Regions from separate parts of the Homo sapiens genome. Here region 2 is linked to region 1. Evidence: fine-mapped expression QTL. A gene starts in region 1. The other region holds a variant in brackets. All regions are shown on one strand. Distances are between the middles of the regions.

What was found.
Region 2: its variant is fine-mapped to the expression of EIF3L in whole blood (TOPMed, PIP above 0.99).

Annotation. Positions count from the first base shown.
Region 1 is chr22:37,844,930-37,855,505 of GRCh38, reverse strand. EIF3L (eukaryotic translation initiation factor 3 subunit L) reads right to left here and starts at 6,087. Exons shown (of 13, transcript NM_016091.4): 1 at 6,024-6,087; 2 at 5,443-5,491; 3 at 4,016-4,226. The coding sequence starts at 6,056. MIR659 (microRNA 659) reads left to right here and starts at 7,732; the gene lies at 7,732-7,828. It also overlaps a transcript of ANKRD54 not described here. RefSeq lists a silencer at 2,910-3,204 and enhancers at 5,401-5,922, 5,923-6,445, 6,446-6,968.
Region 2 is chr22:37,906,346-37,918,232 of GRCh38, reverse strand. MICALL1 (MICAL like 1) reads right to left here. Exons shown (of 16, transcript NM_033386.4): 1 at 11,665-11,887; 2 at 6,233-6,281; 3 at 5,741-5,882; 4 at 438-526. The coding sequence starts at 11,810. Among named protein-coding and RNA genes, the nearest start is that of MICALL1, 6.0 kb to the right of the region's middle. RefSeq lists silencers at 129-291, 11,384-11,493, 11,604-11,887 and enhancers at 664-1,164, 7,201-7,994, 9,984-10,797, 10,798-11,613, 11,614-11,887. The variant T/C (reference allele first, on the strand shown) is at 7,030.

The DNA.
Region 1 (10,576 bases):
CATTTTACAGATGAGGACCCAGGCTTAGAAAGGGGAAGATGTCAAATAAACAGAGCTGAGGCCAAAGCCCTTCAAGCCCACAACTGTCCTCAACCCAACTCCACACTTCAATCTTTCTCAACACAAGAAAATATTGTTTTTGTATCAGTTAGGGACCCATCAAGCTTTTCAGGATAATCTCCTGCCTCTGTATCATTAACTATAGCCATATTTAACTGCTTGCTGTTTTCTGCTATAAGAACTACTTTTTTGGCCACCATTCTTTAACACAGCGTTTCCATCTCCTGGAGCACATCCAAACGTCTCTAAACACAGAAGCAAATCAGTCTGCTGCAGTCCAAGGCCACAACAGACCTACAGCATCCAATTTAAACACTGCTGCCTATCCAATCCAAACACTGCTACTTGACAAACCTGCAACAGGTTGTTTAATTTTCTTCTCCTGATGCCCTCAGCAGCTATTAATACTTTCCTCCAATCTCCTCAAGCCCCACCCCTCCTGCTTCTCTGGCTCTTTTAGTCCAACATATAAACATGCTCAAGTTCCCCTAAAAAACACTGAACAGGCCAGGCATGATGGCTCACGCCTGTAATCTCAACACTTTGGGAGGACAAGATAGGGGTATCGCTTGAACCCAGGAATTCAAGACAAGCCTGGACAATATAGGAAGGCCCTGTCTCTACGGGATGGGGGTTGGGGAGAAACACAGAAACAGAACAGAAAAGAAACACTGAAACAGGCCAGGCGCGCTGGCTCACACCCGTAATCTCAACACTTTGGGAGGCTGAGGCGGGTGGATCACTTGAGGTTAGGAGTTCCAGACCAGCCTGACCAACACGGTGAAACCCCGTCTCCACTAAAAATACAAAATTAGCCAGGCATGGTGGTGCACACCTATAATCCCAACTACTTGGGAAGCTGAGGCAGGAGAATCGCTTGGAGCCAGGAGGCGGAGGTTGCGATGAGCTGAGATTGCGCCATTGCACTCTAGCCTGGGCAACAAGAGCGAAATCCTGTCTCAAAAAACAAAAAACAAAAACAGAAAAAACACAGAAACAAAACACAAAGCCACTCAGTGACCCTTTATGTCCCCGATACTTACCAATTCCCCTTTCTCACCCCACTGCTCTCTGGCTGTTGCTTCCATCACTCTACTGACATTGACCTTGCTAAGGTTATCAAGGCCCTCCAAGTTACCAAATTCAACTGGCTTTTTTTCTCATCTGGACCTCACTAAAACATTTGGTGATACTCTCTTCCTCAGTTTCTTCTGCAGACTTTTTGGTTCCTGTGACATTTCTTTGCCAATTTACTATCTACTTTTCACTTTTCTTTCTGCCTCCTTTACTAGATCCTTTCTTTGCCTGCCCACCCATCCCTAAAGAAACATACTTCTTAAGGCACCAGCATTTCTTCTCACATTCTCCTAGAGAAAGACTTACAAGATGCTTGGCTTCAACTGTCATCTGTATCTGCGGGCACTGCCCAATGCAATAGCCACTAGCTACATGTGGCTACTATATAAGCAAAGAGTTAAATTTTAAATTTCAGTTAGTTGCCATTTAAGTTTAAAAACCAACACTTAACTCAGTATTGGAAAACTTTTAGGTCTATTTGGAATTACTCTACTATTTGAAGATTCAAATTTCAAATTTGAATTACTTTTCCAGTCATAAACTCTATAAAATCTAAACACAAAGCAAGTATTTCTGATACACACTGGATTTAGGAAACTTTAAGTATAAAGAAAAAAAAGGGCAAATATCCCCTTAATTTTTAAATACTGATTACATATAGAAATAATATTTTAAATAAATCTCCACTTCGCTTGGCTGAAAAATTAAAATTAATGTCTAGCTACATTTCTATTGAACATCAGGTCCATTTTTTAATTTTGAGAGAGGGTCTCGCTCCATTGTGCAGCTCACTGCAGCCTCAACCTCCCAGGCTCAAGTGATCCTCCCACCTCAGCCTCCCAACTAGCTGGGACTATAGGCATGCTGCCACCATGCCCCAGCTAATTTTTGTAGGCGCTGATTTATATACTTCTAATCAGAAAAGACCCGGGGAATAAAGAAAACACAGTTCAGCACACTTGCCTTTCAGGTCACCCACCTGGCCCTCTTCCAACTGTCCTTTCCTTTCTTTCATTCCTGTTCTAAAGCTTTTTAATAAACTTTCACTCCTGCTCTCAAACTTGCCTCCCTCTCTTCTTCTGCCTTGTGCCCCTCAGTCGAATTCTTTCTTGTTAGGAGTCAAGAACTGAGGATGCTGTCGACCCGTACAGATACAGACTCATCATCAGTAGCATTTTAGCCCTCAGTGTAATTCTTTCTTGTGAGGAGGCAAGAACTGAGGCTGCTGTAGACCTGTACAGATACGGACTCATCATCGGTAGCATTTTACCCCTCAGTCGAATTCTTTCTTTTGAGGAGGCAAGAACTGAGGCTGCTGGAGACCTGTACAGATACGGATTCATCATTGGTAGCATGTTTTGGTGTTGTGTCACTTCAACACCCTTCAGCTGCTAACCTCTTTTGGTGCCGCATGACTTGGATCCATTTGCTAGTGGTGAAAGACCTCGATGCTGCACCTTCTTCGGCTGGAGGTGTTCAACCTCCGAACAAGGTTTTCTCCCTTTCTCTCTCCTCACTAACTAACCCCCAGATCAATTCTTCTTGGTCATAAGTGACTCTGTTCCCATTGGCTGATCTCTCAGCTCAACCTAATGGGTGGCTTGCAGGGGCGGGAAGGACCTTGGAGTCCACACCAAGTAGAACTTAGGCTCACGAGAGTGGCAGGGGTGAGGCCTAAAACCATGCAATGTCTGAGGTTTCCTCTGCTTTTCAACTACAATCAGCTCTTTCAAAACAACAAAAAAAGAAAACACATGTCAGAGATCCTATTCATTGATCAATAGGCCTTTGGCTATTTGTTTTCTCTCCCTCATCCTTCTGACTTGCTTAAATTCTATTTCCTTGGTGAAGTCACTCCTGACTATCCCAGCTTTGACTGACCTATCTTATCTCTAACGCTCATTACACAACGGCAGCCCCTCAAAACCTGCGGAGTTCAGCTTGCTCTGATATGTACTGAAGGGCTGCATAGCACAGTTTAGAAATTAGGCTTTGGTGCCAGACACTGCAGGTTCAAATCTCAGCACATCCATTAAACTAGCTACATGACTTATTTCTGTGCTGTTTCCTCATCTGTAAAATGAGAAAAACTGCTACTTCATGGGCTTACTGTGAAGGGTAAATGAGTAAAAACACAAACAACACACTGAACATTGATGGATCTATCCTGGTAATAAAAACAAATGCTAATCATTATTATTATAATTGTTAATAGTGATATTATTTTAGGCTTTGTATAAATTTCTGAGGATATAAAGTCCAACAGGCCGGGCATGGTGGCTCACGCTTGTAATCCTAGCACTCTGGGAGGCCAACGGGGGTACATCACTTGAGGTCAGAAGTTCAAGACCAGCCTGGCCAACATGATGAAACCCCGTCTCTACTAAAAATACAAAAATTAGGCCAGGCATGGTGGCTCCCACCTGTAATCCCAGTGCTTTGGGAGGCTGAGGCGGGTGGATCACTTGAGGTCAGGGGTTCAACACACGCCTGGCCAACATGGTGAAATTCTGTCTCTACTAAAAATACAAAAAAATTAACTAGGCATGGTGGCACATGCCTGTAGTCCCAGCTACTCGGGAAGCTGAGGCTGGAGAATCACTTGAACCCAGGAGGCGGAGGTTGCAGTGAGCCGAGATCTTGCCACTGCACTCCAGCCTGGGCGACAGAGTGACACTCCGTTTCAAAAAATAAACAAATGCATAAATAAAATAAAGTCTAACAAAATAAAATGTCCCTAGCCTCAAGGACTCACAAAGACCCCCACCCCCCAACCCCCCCGAAAGTACTGTTTACAGAGTGCTCACCTCATTTGTAGGAACTATATTACCAGGCCAGTCCCACCCAGAAAGAGGCCCTTTCAGCCAGTAGCCCATACCTGTTCTCATAGATGTCCTGGATCTCATACACCTTCTGGTCAATGACATCACTGGAGACACGACTGGCCTGTAGCTCATACACTTTCTGGTCAATCAAATCTGAGACAGTTTTGTGGAAATACTGGATGAAGTTTTTGATCACCTCAGGGATCACCTGATAGGTTTGCTGTTCATACTGACGTTCATAAGCAAGGTCCTGCTTTGGATCTCCTGGAGGTTGGATACAACAAATACAGAGTATGCTCAAACCCACATATATGATAGAACGAAATGGCAAGACCACCCCAGAAACTAAACTCAGGTCTGCGTAAAATTCCCTTTTGAATACTCAGAGATACAAACATCTCAAGTCACTCCCAATCTCGTTGTCCCTGTTTCTTCAAAAATATTACCATGACTTAAAGTTATTTTTCACTTATTATCTGTTTTGCACCCTTCTCCCAAGTCTAGGAAGTCAGGAATCTCGTCTGTCTTGTACTCAGACATACCCTCAGGGCCTAGAAAAGTGTGCGTTGGAGGGGAGAGAGGCAAGACTGTTGGAAAGTAAGTGGTAACAGGTACTTAATATTTCTTGAATGAATAACTGTCACCTTTTAAATATATGACTGTGCCAAGTTACTACTAATAAACCTCTCTGCTATATTTTCTATTCTTTAGGAGACATTAACATACAGAACTGCTGTAAGGATTAAACAAAATATTTCATACAAAGTACTTAGAACAATGGATAACACTGACTACTAAGTCAAGTCACTATAACGTTTCAGGAAACCTCAGACACCTCCTAAAAAGATTTCATTCGGGCTTGGTTTGAATTACTTAAATTTTTCACATCAAGATTTTCTTCCTTGGGGCAGGCGCGGTGGCTCACGCCTGTAATCCCAGCACTTTGGGAGGTTGGGGCGGGTGGATCACCTGAGGTCAGGAGTTCAAGACCAGCCTGGACAACACGGCGAAACCTCGTCTCTATTAAAAAAATTTAAAAATTAGCTGGGAATGGTGGTGGGCGCCTGTAATCCCAGCTACTCAGGAGGCTGAGACAAGAGAACTACTGCTTGAACGAGGGACGCGGAGGTTGCAGTGAGCCGAGATCGCACCACTGCACTCCAGCCTGGGGGACAGAGGGAAACTCCATCTCAAAAACAAAAACAAAAACAAAAACAAAAAAGCTTTTCTTATTTGGCTAATAGTTTACACAAGAAAACCATAGCCAGGTAAGTAATCCTTCTCTTCCAAGACTGAGGTGGACTATGATAAAAAGCCTGGTTTATTAGGCTTTATAAAACCCCTCGCACTGGCAGCTAATGACTGACTCCAAACCTGGACCATCAAAGAGCAATTTTTGATGCCTGTCAGAGCTGGTTCTAAGACATTCCAAAGGAACTGATCCCTACGAGTACTCAGCCAGCCTAACCCGTGGTCTCACCTGTGTGCATATCATAGTCGCTGGGATAAGCGTAGGGGTCATAAGCCGCCTAGAAGGAAAGAGACACAGTCAAGGACAGCCGCCAAGTCGTGAATTCAAAACGCTCATCCTAGAGTCTAGATGCCAAGCAGAGAGCTAAGGATACAGAGGCGAATAAGACACTGTGCCTGCCTTTGAGGAACTCACACGCCTTAGAGAAAAGGGACAGTAAACAGACAATGACAATACAACATTACGGGTGCAATGAGGTGGAGCAAAGGACAAGAGGCTGTGGGAATCAGCGAGATTTGACCAGACGGAGCCTAGACCAAAAAAACTCAGGTGCAGAAACACAGAAACGTCTAACAGGCCTTAGTCTCCGGTCTTAGAAAGGGGAAGGACAAGCCAATCGAACACGCGAAGTGGGCGGGCAGAGCCAGGGTTGTCTAGGGACCGGGAACTGTGGGAGCAGCCTGAGGGCCGGGCGGGAGGTCGGCCGGAGCTGGCCGCGACCCGGAAGCTGCCTCGCGCCGGGACCCACATCCAGTGGTCCCAGAGATCACCCCGTCGTGGAGCCCACCGCGCCCTTACGGCCACCTTACCTCAGACTCATAATCATCAGCGGGATAAGACATGGCTGCCTCGCTTGCGAGCACCGCCGGAAAGAGCGAAATGAGCGGCCCGCGCCTGCGTCCTGAGGCCGGAAGTTCAGCCCCACTCGGGCCTGCCGGGAAACCGGAAGCCTTTCCGAGGCCTCTGGCCATCTGAGACAGCCATATCCAGAAGGAAGAGGAGCCGCGTTCCGTGGCTCACACCTGTAACCCCACCAGTTTGGGAGGCCGAGGCGGGCGGATCACCTGAGGCTGAGGCCGGGGGTTTGAGACCAGCCTGACCAATATGGAGAAACCCCGTCTCTACTAAAAATACAAAATTAGCCGGGAGTGGTGGCGCATGCCTGTAATTCCAGCTACTCGGGAGGCTGAGGCAGGAGAGTCGCTTGAACCCGGGAGGCGGAGGTTGCGGTGAGCCGAGATCGCGCCATTGCACTCTAGCCTGGGCAACAAGAGGGAAAACTCCGTCTAAAAAGAATAAGAGGGTTACAAGTAGCCTGAATTTTCCTCTCTTCAAATAGGGACTTCTCAAAGAAGGTGAATCTATAATAGTGGTGTAGATTCAGATATAAGGACACGTATTTGGCGTAAAGGAGAGGCAAAGTTAGAGGAACCAGAAAGAATGCTACACAAAAGATGGCCGGCTTCTCGCGTGAAGGAAGATTCGGATACGGGGGCCTGATGGATTTAGTTGTAGGCGGTTTGCCTGCAGCGAGTAAATTATTCAAACGTTCGGACTTCACAAGACTAAACTTACTGGGGATAAAAATTGAGATTTGGCCGGGCGCGATGGCTCACGCCTGTAATCCCTACACTTTGGGAGGCCGAGGCGGGTGGATGATCTGAGATCAGGAGTTCGAGACCAGCCTGGCCGAAATGGCGAAACCCCGTCTCTATTAAAAATACAAAAATTAGCCGGGAGTGGTAGCGTCCGCCTGTAATCCCAGCTACTCAGGAGGCTGAAGCAGGAGAATCGGTGGAACCTGAGAGGCAGAGGCTGTAGTGAGCCGAGATCGCGCCACTGCACTCCAGCCTGGGCGACAGAGCAAGACTCCGTCTAAAAAAAAAAAGAAAAAAAAAAATTGAGATTTGGTCCCATGCAGTAAGAGGGAATGGAGAACAGGAGCCACCCAACTTTGGACATTAAAGTTGGAGCAGGCAAAGATGAGGCCAGCTGTGTCGCGAAGCCTGGGACATGGGCAGCTCTTGAGTACACCGGGTTCGAGGCCAGGGGAAACCCTCAAGGTAGAGATGGGGTTATAAAGCAAACCAATAAAAACCGGTGTATGAGTCAAGGAGAGGCCTTAGTTTAGCCATCTGCCCATACACAACACCTAGTGGAAATCCGAGTTCCAGTCCCTACTCCGCCACTGATTTGCTGTGTGACCAGGACTCTCTGGGTCCCTTTGTCACGCCGCCCTCCTTGCTTTTCCCACTGAGGCACGCTCCACCTCTGGGATTTTGCACTCACTGTTATCCAAGTCTAGAATCGAATGCAGTGGCACCCCCACTCCCATTCCCTTCCCCATCGGTATCTGCATGGCACCTTCAGGTGTCTGCTCTGATGCCATCCACTCAACATCCTATTGAGAATTGCAATGCCCAGCCCCAACTCCCTATGCTGCGTTCTTGTTTTGTGTTTCTTCCTTGTGCTGTCACCAGAGGTGACACAAATTTGGAAATAATGGAGCTTAAGCTTTACCGACCCTCGATTTGGTTCAGGACCTTCCCTGAACCAAGGAAGAGTCACAGTCTCTTCCTTGGTTCAGGGAGGGTCCCCAACAATGTCCTCATGGTCCTTTGCTTTTGTAAAATTTGTGAAATATTTTTATTGCTGAAACCACCTTTGCAAAAATTGTAACAGTGAGAAAATAATGACAGTGAAAGAGATCTGATCTAACCAACCCTCATCTTCCATTTAATCTTCAGACTGCCCTTAATCATTCCTGGCTCGAACCGAGCTAACTTTGGGAGACATTTAGTTTCTAGTTTAAATAATAACCCTTCTCCGAGGCCTGGCACAGTGGTTCACACCTGTAATCCCAGCACTTTGGGAGGCCAAGGCAGATGGATCACCTGAGGTCAGGAGTTCGAGACCAGCCTGGCCAACATAGTGAAACCCCGTCTCTACTAAAAATATAAAATTAGCCGGGCATGGTGGCATATGCCTGTAGTCCCAGCTACTCGGGAGGCTGAGGCAGGAGAATCACTTGAACCTAGGAGGCGGAGGTTGTGGTGAGCCAAGATTGCACCACTGCACTCCAGCCTGGGCAACAAGAGCAAAACTGCCTCAAAAAAAAAAAGAAAAAAGAAAAGAAATTGGCCGGGCGCGGTGGCTCACGCCTGTAATCCCAGCACTTTGGGAGGCCGAGGCGGGTGGATCATGAGGTCAGGAGATCGAGACCATCCCGGCTAAAATGGTGAAACCCCGTCTCTACTAAAAATACAAAAAATTAGCCGGGCGTAGTGGCGGGCGCCTGTAGTCCCAGCTACTTGGGAGGCTGAGGCAGGAGAATGGCGTGAACCCGGGAGGCGGAGCTTGCAGTGAGCCGAGATCCTGCCACTGCACTCCAGCCTGGGCGACAGAGCGAGACTCCGTCTCAAAAAAAAAAAAAAGAAAAGAAATTACCTGAAATCTTATAGTCCATATATGACAGGAATTTGATACAGGTTGCTCCAATTTGACAACAATTCTCAAAATGTTCATGACATTTGAGAAGGAGTTGTGAAGTCAGAAGATTTTCATGGGGCTGGATGTGGTGGCTCATGCCAGCACTTTGGGAGGCCAAGGTGGGAGGATCACTTGAGCTCAGGAGCTCAAGATCAGCCTGGGCAATATAGTGAGACCCCATCTTAAAAAAAAATTGGGGCCCAGGCACTGTGGCTCACTCCTGTAATCTCAGCATTTTGGGATGTGGAGGCAGGAGGATCCCTTGAGGCGAGGAGTTCAAGACCAGCCTGAACAAAAAAGTGAGACCATGTCTACAAAAAATCAAAAAAATAATTAGCCAGGCACGGTGGTACACATCTGTGGCCCCAGCTACTCAGGAGGCTGAGGTGGGAGGAAAGCTTGAGTGCAGTGAGCTGTGATCACACCACTGCACTCCAGCCTGAGTGACAGTGAGAGATCCTGTCTCAGCACTGTATCCATTATGGGGCAGACGAGGAGAGTACAAATAAACATAGCATTTTTTTCCATATAGTACAATGATAAACCTCACAATGGCGACTGCAAACACTGAAAATTCTGGAAGTGCTTTTCCAATTGTAAGAGAAAGATTACTTTTTTTTTTCTTTTTGAGATGGAGTCTTTCTCTGTCGCCCAGACTGGAGTGCAGTGGTGCGATCTCGGCTCACCGCAAGCTCTGCCTCCTGGGTTCACGCCATTCTCCTGCCTCAGCCTCCTGAGTAGCTGGGACTAAAGGTGCCCACCACCACACCAGGCTAATTTTTTTGTATTTTTAGTAGAGACGGGGTTTCACCATGTTAGCCAGAATGGTCTCAATCTCCTGACCTCGTGATCTGCCTGCCTCAGCCTCCCAAAATGCTGGGATTACAGGCGTGAGCCACAGCGCCAGGCCTTTTTTTTGTTTTTGTTTCTTTCTGAGATGGAGTCTCGCTCTGTCACCCAGGCTGGAGTGCCATGGTGCGATCTCAGCTCACCGCAACCTCTGCCTCCCAGGTTCAAGCTACTCTCCTGCCTCAGTGTCCTGAATAGCTGGGATTACAGGCGTGCGCCACCACACCCAGCTAATTTTTGTATTTTTAGTAGAAACGAGGTTTCATCATGTTGGCCAGGCTTGTCTTGAACTCCCGACCTTGTCATCTGCCCATTTTGGCCTCCCAAAGTGCTGGGATTACAGGCGTGACCCACCGTGCGGAAAGATTACATTTTAACTGGGTTGAGTGGGAGGGTTTATATATGGAAAGAACTTTTGCCAGGACACAAGACCTGGTCCGGTGAGAGCTGGGCAACTGTGAATGAGTCTCTTCCCTCTGCTTTTCAACTCCTCACCTATAAAATAGGGATGGTCCTTCTTGTCTACTTTATAGAAGTGCTTGTGGGGTACGGGATTGTGAGAAGTTTTATGAAAACGTGCACCCATGAAATGTTGCTTGAGGAACACTTATTTGTTTCCTGGTCTTCTCCCATTGGATTGTGAGCATCTCAGGGGCACCAAGTCTGATCCTGTGTCCAGGACCTAGCAGTTACCTGGCTCAGTGACTGGCTGTCGAACTAAACTATTGCTCTAATGTAATCACTTTGTATTACAAATCTTTGTAGATCAGTCATCTACGTCGGGGTTACCTAGAGAACTCTGACTAAAGGAAATCCATTGCATTTAGACACTATTACTCACAGTTTGTAGTGGTATCTCCAAATTTCAACACATTTTCCCTTTCCCACGTACATTATGCATTTGTGGGAAGTTCTTTTTTTTTTTTTTTTTTGCGTTCATTGATTTACAACATCTATATCTACATGGATGGCGTGGCTTCTTCATTTTCCTTTGTGAGTGCCTGCAAATCATCTTAATCTGATT
Region 2 (11,887 bases), 62 kb before region 1:
AATGCTGACCTCCCTGGGTTGTTGAGAGGATTAAAGGAAATCAAGCCGGGAAGTTTACAGCTGTCTCCACAGGAATCAAGGGGAATCTTTGCTTTACTACGTGTGTAACTCCTGACAGTCCCATGATGGTGAAGTCAGCATTGTGGACTGCCCTCTCTCCCCTTGCCAGAGCTGGCATCTCCTGACCCCACCTGAGTCCTGGAGAAGGAGGTAGGGCTCCCTGCCCATAGAACGGGACTGGCCTCCTGACCCATGCCTCACTGCCCCAGTCAGGGACACCTGTTCCCAAAGCCAATAGGGCAGGGACAGAGAACAAGCACCCTCTGAACACTGTCAGGGCTAACTTCCTCACATGACCCAGTCACTGCAATGATAGTCGTCCACATAACTCGCCCCCTCCACCCCTGGCCCTCCCACCTCTCCAGGTATCTGCCTACCTGAGCCACATCTTCTGGTTCCACTGGAGTGGGTGCTACAGACGGCGGGGAACAGGGTGCAAGGCCCTTTCTGGGTGGCGAGACACCAGCTGCCAAGAGATGAGAAAGGGGTCCTGAAGCAGGTGGAGATCCTGGAGTCCCAGGAGGTCCCAACCTGGCTGAAGATTTGAGACCTGTAGCCATCACCTAAAGGCAGACCACCTAATGCAGTGGGACAGGAGCTGGCTCCCGCTTCACACGGGCCCGGGGACGCTTCCAGTTTTAAGCCAAGTGCTGAGGGCAAGCCATGAACCTCACTGAACCTCCATCAAATGGGGAGAGTGACTCCTACTGCACAGAGCCAATCCGAACAATGGCGCAACAGTACGATCACAGAACACAGCACCCGCGTGTGGCTACACCAGCAGCTTCCCTGCCACCAGGGTAGAGGAGGTGAAGGAAAGGAAAAGAAAGGAACCATATGGTGCTGCCCTGACAGCTCAGGAAAGGCGCTGCCTCCTTGGGGTTGACAAGGAGCTGTCCTGCCTATCCCCAAGTGGGTATTGGGGGCCAGAACCCGGCCTGCACACCCCCTCACCAGAACAAACCCACCCACCCTGGGTTCCTCTAAGACTCAGCTCCTCAGGCCGGGCACAGTGGCTCACGTCTATAATCCCAGCACTTTGGGAGGCTGAGGTGGGTGGATCATTTGAGGTCAGGAGTTCAAGACCAGCCTGGCCAACATAGTGAAACACCATCTCTACTAAAAATACAAAAATCAGCTGGACATGGTGGTGCGCGCCTATAATCACAGCCACTCAGCCACTCGGAAGGCTAAGGCAGGAGAATCGCTCGAACCTGGGAGGTGGAGGTTACAGTGAGTTGAGATCGCGCCACTGCACTCCAGCCTGGGCAACCGAGCAAGACTCTGTCTCAAAAAAAGAAATAAATTCAATAACACTATGGTTGGTGCCAGGAGTGGCTCCAGCTGACTGGGGAGAGGCCCTTAGAAGCCACATGAAGAAGCTGGACTTCATCCTGACATTACTCCCCAACCCCTTTCTGATTTCCCACAGCCACTCGGCTTCCTTCACTCCTGCCCTGGCTCCCTGAGCAGGCTGCAGCTCCTCCAGGGTGGGGGTCTGTCTGTTGTGCCCGGGGTCACTGGCACCCACTGAGCGTGGTGGCACAGCTGAACACTCAGCACAGCACCACGACATCTCAGCCAGGGGCAGGCTCCAAACTTACCCAGTCTGGTAAAAAGTCAAGGCTAGTCAAAGTCACTCTTGAAATGCCTCCACTCGCCCAGAAAGTACAGTACAGGACCATCTGGGGGAGTCGAACAGCCAGCTTTGCCTCCAGAGTTGGAACACATCACTGTTTCCTTTGCTTAAGCAGCAGATGGGATAAAAATGGTTTGCATTTAGGGGCCAAGTTGTATGAAAGGCACAAACTGTACCTTTTCTTTTTTATTACAAAAGGCAGATTTATTAGAGAAGGTATGAAAATACATTGCGAGGCTGAAAATACAGGCAGCATAACAAAGGACTGTCTGCCACAAACTGTACCTTTATCAATGAGAATCCCTGCAGGGCGAGGGAGTGCCCATGCCCACACTCAGCACGGTAAGCTGTGCCCACCAGGGCTGCCCCTGCCCACCAGGCTGCCCAGAGAGGGCCAACGAATGAGCTGCGTACCACCAACAGCTGCCCACACCCCACCCACCCCGCAGAGTCCCAGAGATGAGCTCAGTAGAGAGAGATTCAGGTTTGGCCACAAGGAAGGCCGCAGGCTAAGGCTGAATTGCGATTCTAAGGAATCCAGCTAAACGCTAATCAGTGAAATAAGAAGTAGTAAGAATACTAATCTTGGCTGGGCGCAGTGGCTCACACCTGTAATCCCAGCACTTTGGGAGGCCAAGGTGGGTGGATCACTTGAGGTCAGAAATCCCAGACCAGACCGGCCATCATAGTGAAACCCTATCTCTACTAAAAATACAAAAATTAAGCCAGGCGTGGTGGTGCGCACCTGTAATCCCAGCTACTTGGGAGACTGAGGCATGAGAATCGCTTGAACATGGGAGGCAGAGGCTGCAGTCTGCCAAGGTTGTGCCACTGAGCTCCAGCCTGGATGACACAGCGAGACTCTGTCTCAAAAAAAAAAAAAAAAAAGAATACTAATCTAAATAGGTGCCAAACACTGGTTTATACATTTCCTCATTTACTCCTCAAGTCAACCCTGTGAGATGGGTGTTATTCCTATCCTCACTGCAAAAGGGAAACTGAGGCAGAGTGGTTAAATAACTGACCCATGGTCACCCAAAGAGGAAATGGCAGAGTGAAAATTTTGAGTCCATGCTCTTAACCCCAACCTTAGACTGCCTCTCACCAGAGCCTCTGGGGTCTGGAAATACTTTCATTTTGTTTTCTATTAAAATATACATAATGTTATTTGTTCAATTATTTTAATCCCTAGTGTTACATCAGGGGGAAGGGGTATAAGACATTATTTTAATTTTTCTGCTTTTGCCATGTTCTAAATTTTCTTGTTTATTTTTTCTGTTTAGGGATGGGGTCTCGCTCTGTTGCCCAGGCTGCAGTGCACTGGCGTGATCATAGCTCACCGCAGCCTCAAACTCCTGGCCTCAAGCAAACCTCCCATCTCAACCTCCCATGTAGCTAGGACTACAGGTGTGCCACCACTATGCCTGGTTAATTTTTTTATTTTTATTTTGGTAGAGACAGGTTCTTGCTATGTTGCCCAGTCTGGTCTCAACAGCAATCCACCTGCCTCGGCCTCCCAAAGTGCTGGGATTACAGGCATGAGCCACTTCACCCGGCTATTTTTTCTTTTTTTCCTAAAGTTATTTATTTATGGCTGGGCATAGTGGCTCATGCCTGTAATCCCAGCACTTTGGGAGGCCGAGAAGGGTAGATCCCTTGAGCTTAGGAGTTCAAGACCAACCTGGGTAACATGGTGATACTCCACCTCTACAAAAAATATAAAAGTTAGCTGGGTGTGGTTGCATGCACCAGTAGTCCCAGCTTCTCAGTAGGCTGAGATAGGAGGATCACCGCAGCCCAGGAAGGTTGAGGACGCATTGAGCTGTGATCATGCCACTGCACTCCAGCCTAGGCAACACAACAGAGTAAAACCCTGTCTCAAAAAAAATACACATATATGTGCGTGTGTGTGTGTGTGCGCGCACGCATATATACACATAATATATGTACATATATATGTATATGCATGTATATATATACATATATATATATAATGAAAGAAAAGATGGCTGGGTGCAGTGGCTCATGCCTGTAATCCCAGCACTTTGGGAGGCTGAGGTGGGTGGATCACCTGAGGTCAGGAATTCGAGACCAGCCTGGCCAACATGGTGAAACCCCGTCTCTACTAAAACTACAAAAATTAGCCGGGTGTGGTGGCGGGTGCCTGTAATCCCAGCTACTTGGGAGGCTAAAACAGGAGAATCGCTTGAACCCGGGAGGTAGAGGTTGCAGTGAGCTGAGACCGCGCCATTGCACTCCAGCCTGGGCAAGAAGAGTGAAACTCCATTTCAAAAAAAAAAAAGAAAGAAAAGAAAAGAAACCTCTGACTTCATAAAACACTTTAAAGAGTTGGGCCAGGGCCGGGCGCAGTGGCTCATGCCTGTAATCCTACCACTTTGGGAGGCCGAGGCAGGTGGATCGCCTGAGGTCAGGAGTTTGAGACCAGCCTGGCCAAAGTGGCGAAACCCCATCTCTACTAAAAATACAAAAATTAGCCGGACATGTTGGTGCATGCCTGTAATCCCAGCTACTCAGGAGGCTGAAGCAGGAGAATCACTTGAACCCCGAGGGCAGAGGTTGCAGTAAGCCGAGATCGCGCCATCGCACTCCAGCCTAGGCAACAAGAGCAAAACTCTGTATCAAAAAAAAAAAAAAAAGAGTTGGGCCAGAACTGTCTAGACCGACAGCAGAGGCAGGAGGGAGGGGCTGAAATGGGCTCTACTCAGACCCAGGGACAGCAGGAATCCAGCGTTGGATTCAGGACACCTGGATTCTCAACCCAGCTGTTCAGTTTGTCTGCTGTGTGATCTTGAGCTCCTTGCTTCCCCTCTCTAGGCCTATCTCATCTCTGCAGAAGGGGAGGCCCAGCTACCTGCAAGGGAGGTCCTTGCATGGGAATGCCCAGTGACCTCACTCAGAACCGAGTCACTTTGTAGCCCCTGCAACTCTGGTTCCCCAGTTCCCCAGCCTCTCAGCTCTCAGTCACTTCTGTGGAAGACAGCACAGCAGCCTCACCAGACAGAGCCACTTCCCTGCTGGAGGAAAAACCCAAGGAAGTGTCTGCAAACAGGAAGTGAGGGTGGGTGCCGGGGAGGTGGACTCCATGCAGCGGATGAACGCAACCTGCTGTGTCTCCTCTGATATGATTGTGTTCATTTTCTGGTGGGTGTGTTTGGTGTCTATCTCCCCCACGGGACTTCAGCAGTGATTACATTCACAGCTGCATCCCCAGAGCCCAGCACAGGCTCTTTTACTCAAGATATATGTCAGGCCGGGCACCAGTGGCTCACGTCTGTAGTCCCAGCACTTTTGGAGGCTGAGGCGGGCAGATCACCTGAGGTCAGGAGTTCAAGACCAGCCTGGCCAACATGGTGAAACCTCATCTCTACTAAAAATACCAAAAATTAGCCAGGTGTAGTGGTGGGTGCCTGTAATCCCAGCTACTCAGGAGGCTGAGACAGGAGAATTGCTTAAACTCAGGAAGCGGAGGTTGCAGTGAGACAAGATCGTGCCATTGCACTCTAGCCTGTGCAACAAGAGTGAAACTCCGTCTCAAAAAAAAAAAAAAAGTGGGACTGGGCACAGTGGCTCACGCCTGTAATCCCAGCACTTGGGGAGGCCAAGGCGGGCAGATCACGAGGTCAAGAGTTTGAGACCAGCCTGGCCAACATAGTGAAACCCTGTCTCTACTAAAGACACAAAAAATTAGCCGGGCGTGGTGCCGGGTGCCTGTAATCCCAGCTACTTGGGAGTCTGAGGCAGGAGGTTAAACCCAGGAGGCGGAGGTTGCAGTGAGCCGAGATCGTGCCATCGCAATCCAGCCTGGGTGACAGGGCAAGACTCCATCTCAAAAAAAAAAAGAGCGAAACTCTGTCTCAAAAAAAAAAAGAAATATTTCAATGAGTGAATTAATGAATAAGTAAATGAATGACACACTCCTCAGCAGCCTGTTTACAACTCAGAAAACCAGTAGCAAGCATCAGACATCCCCAGGGCCACCCCCTGGGCCAGCCTCCGTGAAACGCTGAGTCCCCCTCTCACCTTGGCCAGGACTGCAGAAGTGGTTGTAATACTGGGACACATAGGTCATGATGCTGAGGCAGTCAGGGACGCTCATGGAGACCATGTCATTGGGGTCCAGGAGAGCGGGGATCCCCAGCTCCTTCTCAGCCACTTCAAAGGCCTGGGGTGGTGACAGGTACAAGGGCGGGAGCAGCCGAAGCAGGAAGAGGAGGAGGCGTTAGGGGGCGACCCCTCAGCCTAGGCCCAGCTCCCTTCAGTGGGATGGGGTGACTGTGGGCTCCCCTCAGTATTAATCCCACCCAAGCACCACAGGATGGCCTGGAGAAAGGGGAAGCCTGGTGCTCCATGCATGAGGAGGCTGGTGGGAAGCAGAGGGTGGGGAAAGGTGCAGCCAGGGCCGGTGTACAAGGGCAGCCACCGTGCAAGACCCCTGCCCTCCCCACCAAACACACACACACACACACACACATACACAGAGCCTCTTGGGCTTCCACCTGTCCGGGAACTTACCAAACGGTTATTCTCGAAGACATTGTCCTTGGAAAGCGAATCAAAATCTCTGCAAGAGGCAAAGGGAGGAGGGTTGGTCAAGAGGGGAGGTGACTGGGAAATAGGGGCGGGGTCAGAGTCAGAAAGGAGCTGAACAGAGAAGACCTTGTCCCAGCCAGCATCAACCTCAGCAGGGTTGCTGGGGGGGAGTCTGTGGATTACTAAGGGGGAAACTGAGGCAGCAAACATTCGCTGCTAGAGCTGGAGCTGCCAGGGCAGGGCAGGGCATGAGATCACGGGCCCTGGAGGCATCCAAGCAGAGGCTAGGAAATCACTGGGAAGGGGTGAGGCTCAAGCCCAGGCTTTCAAGCTTAAGATCCTTTGCCTCTCTGCAGGAAGCCACCCCTGGAGTCCGTGGCAAAGACATAACTAAGACCCGCATGTGACCTCCCCCAGGGCGCAGTGCTGGGCTCCTCTGTCTCATTTACTTTCTTTTCACAGCAACTCTGTTTGGCAAGAATTGATCTCATTTTATAGATGAGGACACTGAGGCCTGGAGAAAGGAAGCCACCAGCCCTGGGAATCCACATGTCTGGCCCTCCCACTGCTCACAGGCCCCTGCAGGTGTGTCACACACTCGGAGTAGCCACACCAACTTGCTGCATCCCAACCCGGTCCAGCCTGCAGATGAATGTTTTTCTTAATGGGGCCGTGAATAGAAGAACAAGTTTGAACCAGAGTGGAAATGTACATACTCCGGAGCTGCTGGCATAGAACAGCTGGTTGGCCCCACTGGGCCACTCCTGGGGCAGCCTCCA[T/C]TGGGGAAGCAGTGAGGGATTTTCTAAACTAGGAAAGGTGAGAGGTGGCAGGGCCTGTCTGGGGGCCCCAGCACGGGACAGCTGGCTGGCCTGCAGGCTTTATTTATCCCCCTCCTCCCTCCCCACTCCAGGCCGCTGAAACCAGCAGAGACAGCTCAGTCTTCCCGCCGGGCAGCCTCCTGGGTGCATCCGCATGCAGCCTTGCCCTTCTATGGCTGAAAACTGCAGCCCTGACTGCCGGAGATGGGTGGGCAGAGGCAAGAGCAGGCCACGCCGCCTCTGAGGGCTGAATTCCCATGTGACCATGGGGTTGGGGGGATCAGCAGTCCTTCCAGCATTCATTGTCCCATGTGCAAATCAGGAAAAGCACTAATACCACCTCCCAAGCTGGTGGAGTCCCAGCTTGGTAAAGGGCAGGCCTCGCAGATATGAGGGAGCCAGGTAAGCACAGCCCCCTCCTCCTGCCCCCAACACTTTTCCAGGCAGGGGCCAGGGACTGTGAACCCTGGGCAGGAAAGAGTTGCTTGAGGACCTTGGAAGGGGTCTGGTGCCCCAGGGCTGGGTGGACGGGGAGAGGCAAGGTGACTATGTCTGGGCACCAGCTCCCTTTTTGCCACTCTGACCAGGCCACTTCCTTCTCCCCTGGGCTGCCTCCCTAGCTCCCCTTTTCTGCCACTGCCTCAGAGTGCGACCTTAGCAAGGTGTTTCACCTCTCGAAACCTCTGTCTCCCGGTCCGGTTCAGGACACTGCAACAGGGCGAGGAAAACACCATGGTACCCAGCCCCCAACAGAGGCTTTTTCCAAGACCAAATGAGACAAAAGCAACTTGTCTCAGCCGTTTATTTCGGTCACCCCAGAAGTGTTCCAAGAAGGCTGGGGTCACATTCTAGCTACTCTGTGCCCCCAACTCCCTACACAGTTCCCCAAATTTCGAAGATGCTCCGTAAATGTTTGTTGAATGAATCAATGTTGAAAACAGTGTGAAAACTGTAAAAAACCTTCAGGATCCTGCAGGTTTTCTTCCACCCCCATCTCTGTCCCTAATTAACATCTGTGTTTTGGTAACACATATATTTTCTGAGAGTCTTCAGAGGCCTGCGGAGTTCTACTTGGCTCTGGGGAAGATGAAGGACACAGAAATGAAACCCACATGGTCCACGCCCTCAAAGGAGCTTAAGCATGTCTGGATTTCGGGTGGTGCGGAGGGATGGCCCAGCCCCCACAACCCTCGTCCCAGCAGAGCCCTGGGCCAACACTGGGTTCACCCAGGCAGGGCCCACAGCCCCAGAAGCCTGAACCAATTTAGGAGATGATTCTTGCCCTCACTCTAGGCCACTCCTATTCTCACGGAGATCCTCCCAACCCATCACTGAGGACTTCCCTACACATTATGTGGGACCTGGGCCTCAGCTTCTCTCCTGTGCAATGCGCTGGCAATATTGCAAATGAATGCCTGGACATGATTCTGGATCTCAGAAGCGGAGCCACCCTCCCCTGCACATTTTTTCCAGCCACATCCCTCCCTTGCTTAAAACCTACGTGGTTGGCCAGGCGCGGTGGCTCACACCTATAATCCCAGCACTTTGGGAGGCCAAGGCAGGTGGATCACGAGGTCAGGAGATTGAGACCATCCTGACTAACACAGTGAAACCCCGTCTCTGCTAAAAATACAACAAATTAGCCAGGCATGGTGGCGGGCACCTGTAGTCCCAGCTACTCGGGAGGCTAAGGCAGGAGAATGGCGTGAACCCAAGAGGTGGAGCTTGCAGTGAGCAGAGATCATGCCACTGCACTCCAGCTTGGCTGACAGAGCGAGACTCCGTCTCAAAAAAAAAAACCTACGTGGCTCGGCCAGGCATGGTGGCTCACGCCTGTAATCCCAGCACTTTGGGAGGCCGAGGCAGGCGGATCACCTGAGGTCAGGAGTTCGAGACCAGCCTGGCCAACATGGTGAAACCCCATCTCTACTAAAAACTACAAAAATTAGCCAGGCATGGTGGTGCGTGCCTGTAATCCCAGCTACTTGGGAGGCTGAGGCAGGAGAATCGCTTGAATCCGGGAGGCAGAGGTTGTGGTGAGCCGAGATCACGCCACTGCACTCCAGCCTGGGTGACAGGCCTCCATCTCAAAAAAACAAAAACAAAAACAAAAAAAACCCTGCATGGTTCCCTGAGGCCCCTATCCATGCTCCTTAGCCAGCAAAAGCAGCTGTCAGCCATCTGTCCCAACTGCATCTCCCAACTCGCTACCTTGTGCTCCCCACTCAGCTACACAGCCTCCAGCTTTGCACACACCTCCCGCCCCTTGCCTTTGCTCAGATGGGGTCCCATGCCAGAACGTCCACCCAGCAGCCCTCACCTGGCTCCTGCCATCTCCTTGAAGACTATATTCTCCCTAGGAGGTCTCCCACCCCCAGCCCTCTGATAGGGTACATGGAATTGCCATCATCGTTTATACACGTTTCCCCTACAGGTGTGGGAGAGCGTGTAGGGTTGCCTGTTTTGTCGATTGGTACTTCCATTACCAGGTACAGTGTCCAGCACAGAGCAATATGACTCTACAAATACTGGTTGAATAAATGAAGAAATCAAACATTGTTATTGGGCCAGGCATGGTGGCTCATGCCTGTAATCCCAGCATTTTGGGAGGCTGAGGTAGGCAGATTACTTGAGCTCAAGAGTTCAAGACCAGCCTGGGCAACATGGTGAAAACCCATCTCTACAAATACAAACAAATTAGACAGGCGTGGTGGCGTGTGCCTGTGGTCCCAGCTACTAGGGAGGTTGAGGTGGGAGGATTGCTTGAGCCCGGGAGGTGGGGGCTGCAGTGAGCCATGACTGTGCCACTGCACTCCAGCCTGGGTGACAGAGTGAGACCCCATCTCAAAAAAATAAAAAACATTAAAAAAAAAAAAAGTAACATTAGTTACTCACAGTAACTAATGTTAAATGAATGCTTGTTATCTCATGCAATCCTCACATTTCTGTGAGCTGTGTCACATTATCAATCCCACCTCACAGATGAGGACACTGATGCCTGGAGAGAGCCCATGAGGACCCAAGGCCATGCGCCTAAGACATGGAGAAGCTAAACACAAACCAGGCGGCCTTTATTTACTTTGATGCCACCAGGCTCAGGCCCACCAAATGGCTTCACTTCACACCCAAGTCCCCTCCCACACTGGGTTTGTCCCTGCTTCCTGCCTCACTCCTGCCCCTCAAACAAAACAGAAGACCCCTTGGGCCCTCCCTTCCAATGCCCAGGTCTAACCCTGGTGCCCTTTTCCTCCATCCTTCTACCCCCTGCTCCTGGGCAACCAGGCATCAACCTTGTGCTTCCATTAGTATGGGTGTCACATGCCCCACAGCGGGCAGGGGCCCACCTACATGACCACCTCATCTTGTTCCCTTCTGTATCCACAGCCCCAAAACCCTCTCCTCCAGGGCCCAAGCCACCACCCACAGACACGGTACTGCAGGGTACATACAGGTAAACCAGGTGCACCTGCATCATGGAATCCTGAGGCAATCCCTTAGAAGCCTTCCCACATGCTGCCCTCGGACAGTGCAAATCTGGAGGTGGAACAGGCACAGAAAGCCTCCATCTGCCAGGCTGGGGGAGCCCTGGCAAGAGGGCTGCATGCGAAAGGGGTAGGGACCAGAACTCTCCTCCCTGATTCACAGGTGAGACCTGAAGTGCAAGGAATGGCACCAGATAAACTCACCCAGTGTTTTAGGAATGAAGGGACGAAAGGAGGAGAGGTTCCAGGGCTCAAGGCAGAGAGAGCAAAGACAGAGGCTCCAAGTCAACTGTTCCGGGGAGTCTGAATGCATTTTCCCATGAGAACCTCATTGGGCAGCTCTGGGCAGGAAGGGGCCATTTCACAACCTGCAGCACCCGGTTGGTGTCTATCAATCGGATCCTAGGAGTCTTCCCAACATTGCCGGCCTGTGACTCCTCTTGCGCGCCCCACCTGCGTGCCCCACTGAGGAGGGCTGCAGGGCCATCGAGCACACACCCGGGAGGCAGGGCTGCGTCCTAAGTTGGGGGGCGTGGGGAAAGCACAGGGTCTGTACATCCATTCATCCAACACCTGTTAGCCGAGGTCTCCTCTGTGCCGGGAACTGTGCTACTGTCCGGAGACAAGCTCCTATTTGGGGGTCAGAGAAGTGGGGGTTCACCTGCACACCCGGAGCAAGGGGCCACCCCGAGTGGGAAGCCTCGGGGGAGAGGGGAGGCCCGGCGAGCCCGTGGAGAAGAGTTTAGGGTAGGAGAGGCCCAGGGCCCCCAAAGAGGGCTCAACACCCCTTCAAAGAGGTCAAGGGCTTAGGGGTTCAGCGATCCTCGGCGGAAATCAGCGCTTTGTGGGCGGGGCCAGTGTCCCCGCGGAGGGACCAGCCTCGGGGGAGAGTTCGGGATCCCACGGGCGGGGTCAGGGCGGCCGGGCGGGGGAGGGGCGCCCTGGGCCGGGGTCTCAGGGACCCGCCCGGCGTCCGGGGCCGTCGGGGGGGTCGGCGTCTCCGTGTCCGGGGGCGGCGCCTGTCACCGCCCGGGCTTCGTGTTACTGAGGGGGGGCGGCGGTCGCGGCCCCAGCCCGCCCCGCGCCGCCCGCTCGCCCGGGGCCCCGCACTCACAGCAGGTCGGGCCGGTGCCGGTGCAGGATGGCGCAGAAGGCCAGGCCGTCCCGGAAGGAGCTGCTCAGGTCGCGGATCTCCACGCCGCGGTAGCCCTCGCACTGGCGGCGGCACCAGGCCAGCAGCGCGCCCCGCGGCCCAGCCATGACCCCGCGGCCCGCCCGGCTCCGGCTCTGGCTTCGGGGCCCCGGCTTGGCCGGGACGGCGGCCGCCGCGCGGGCCC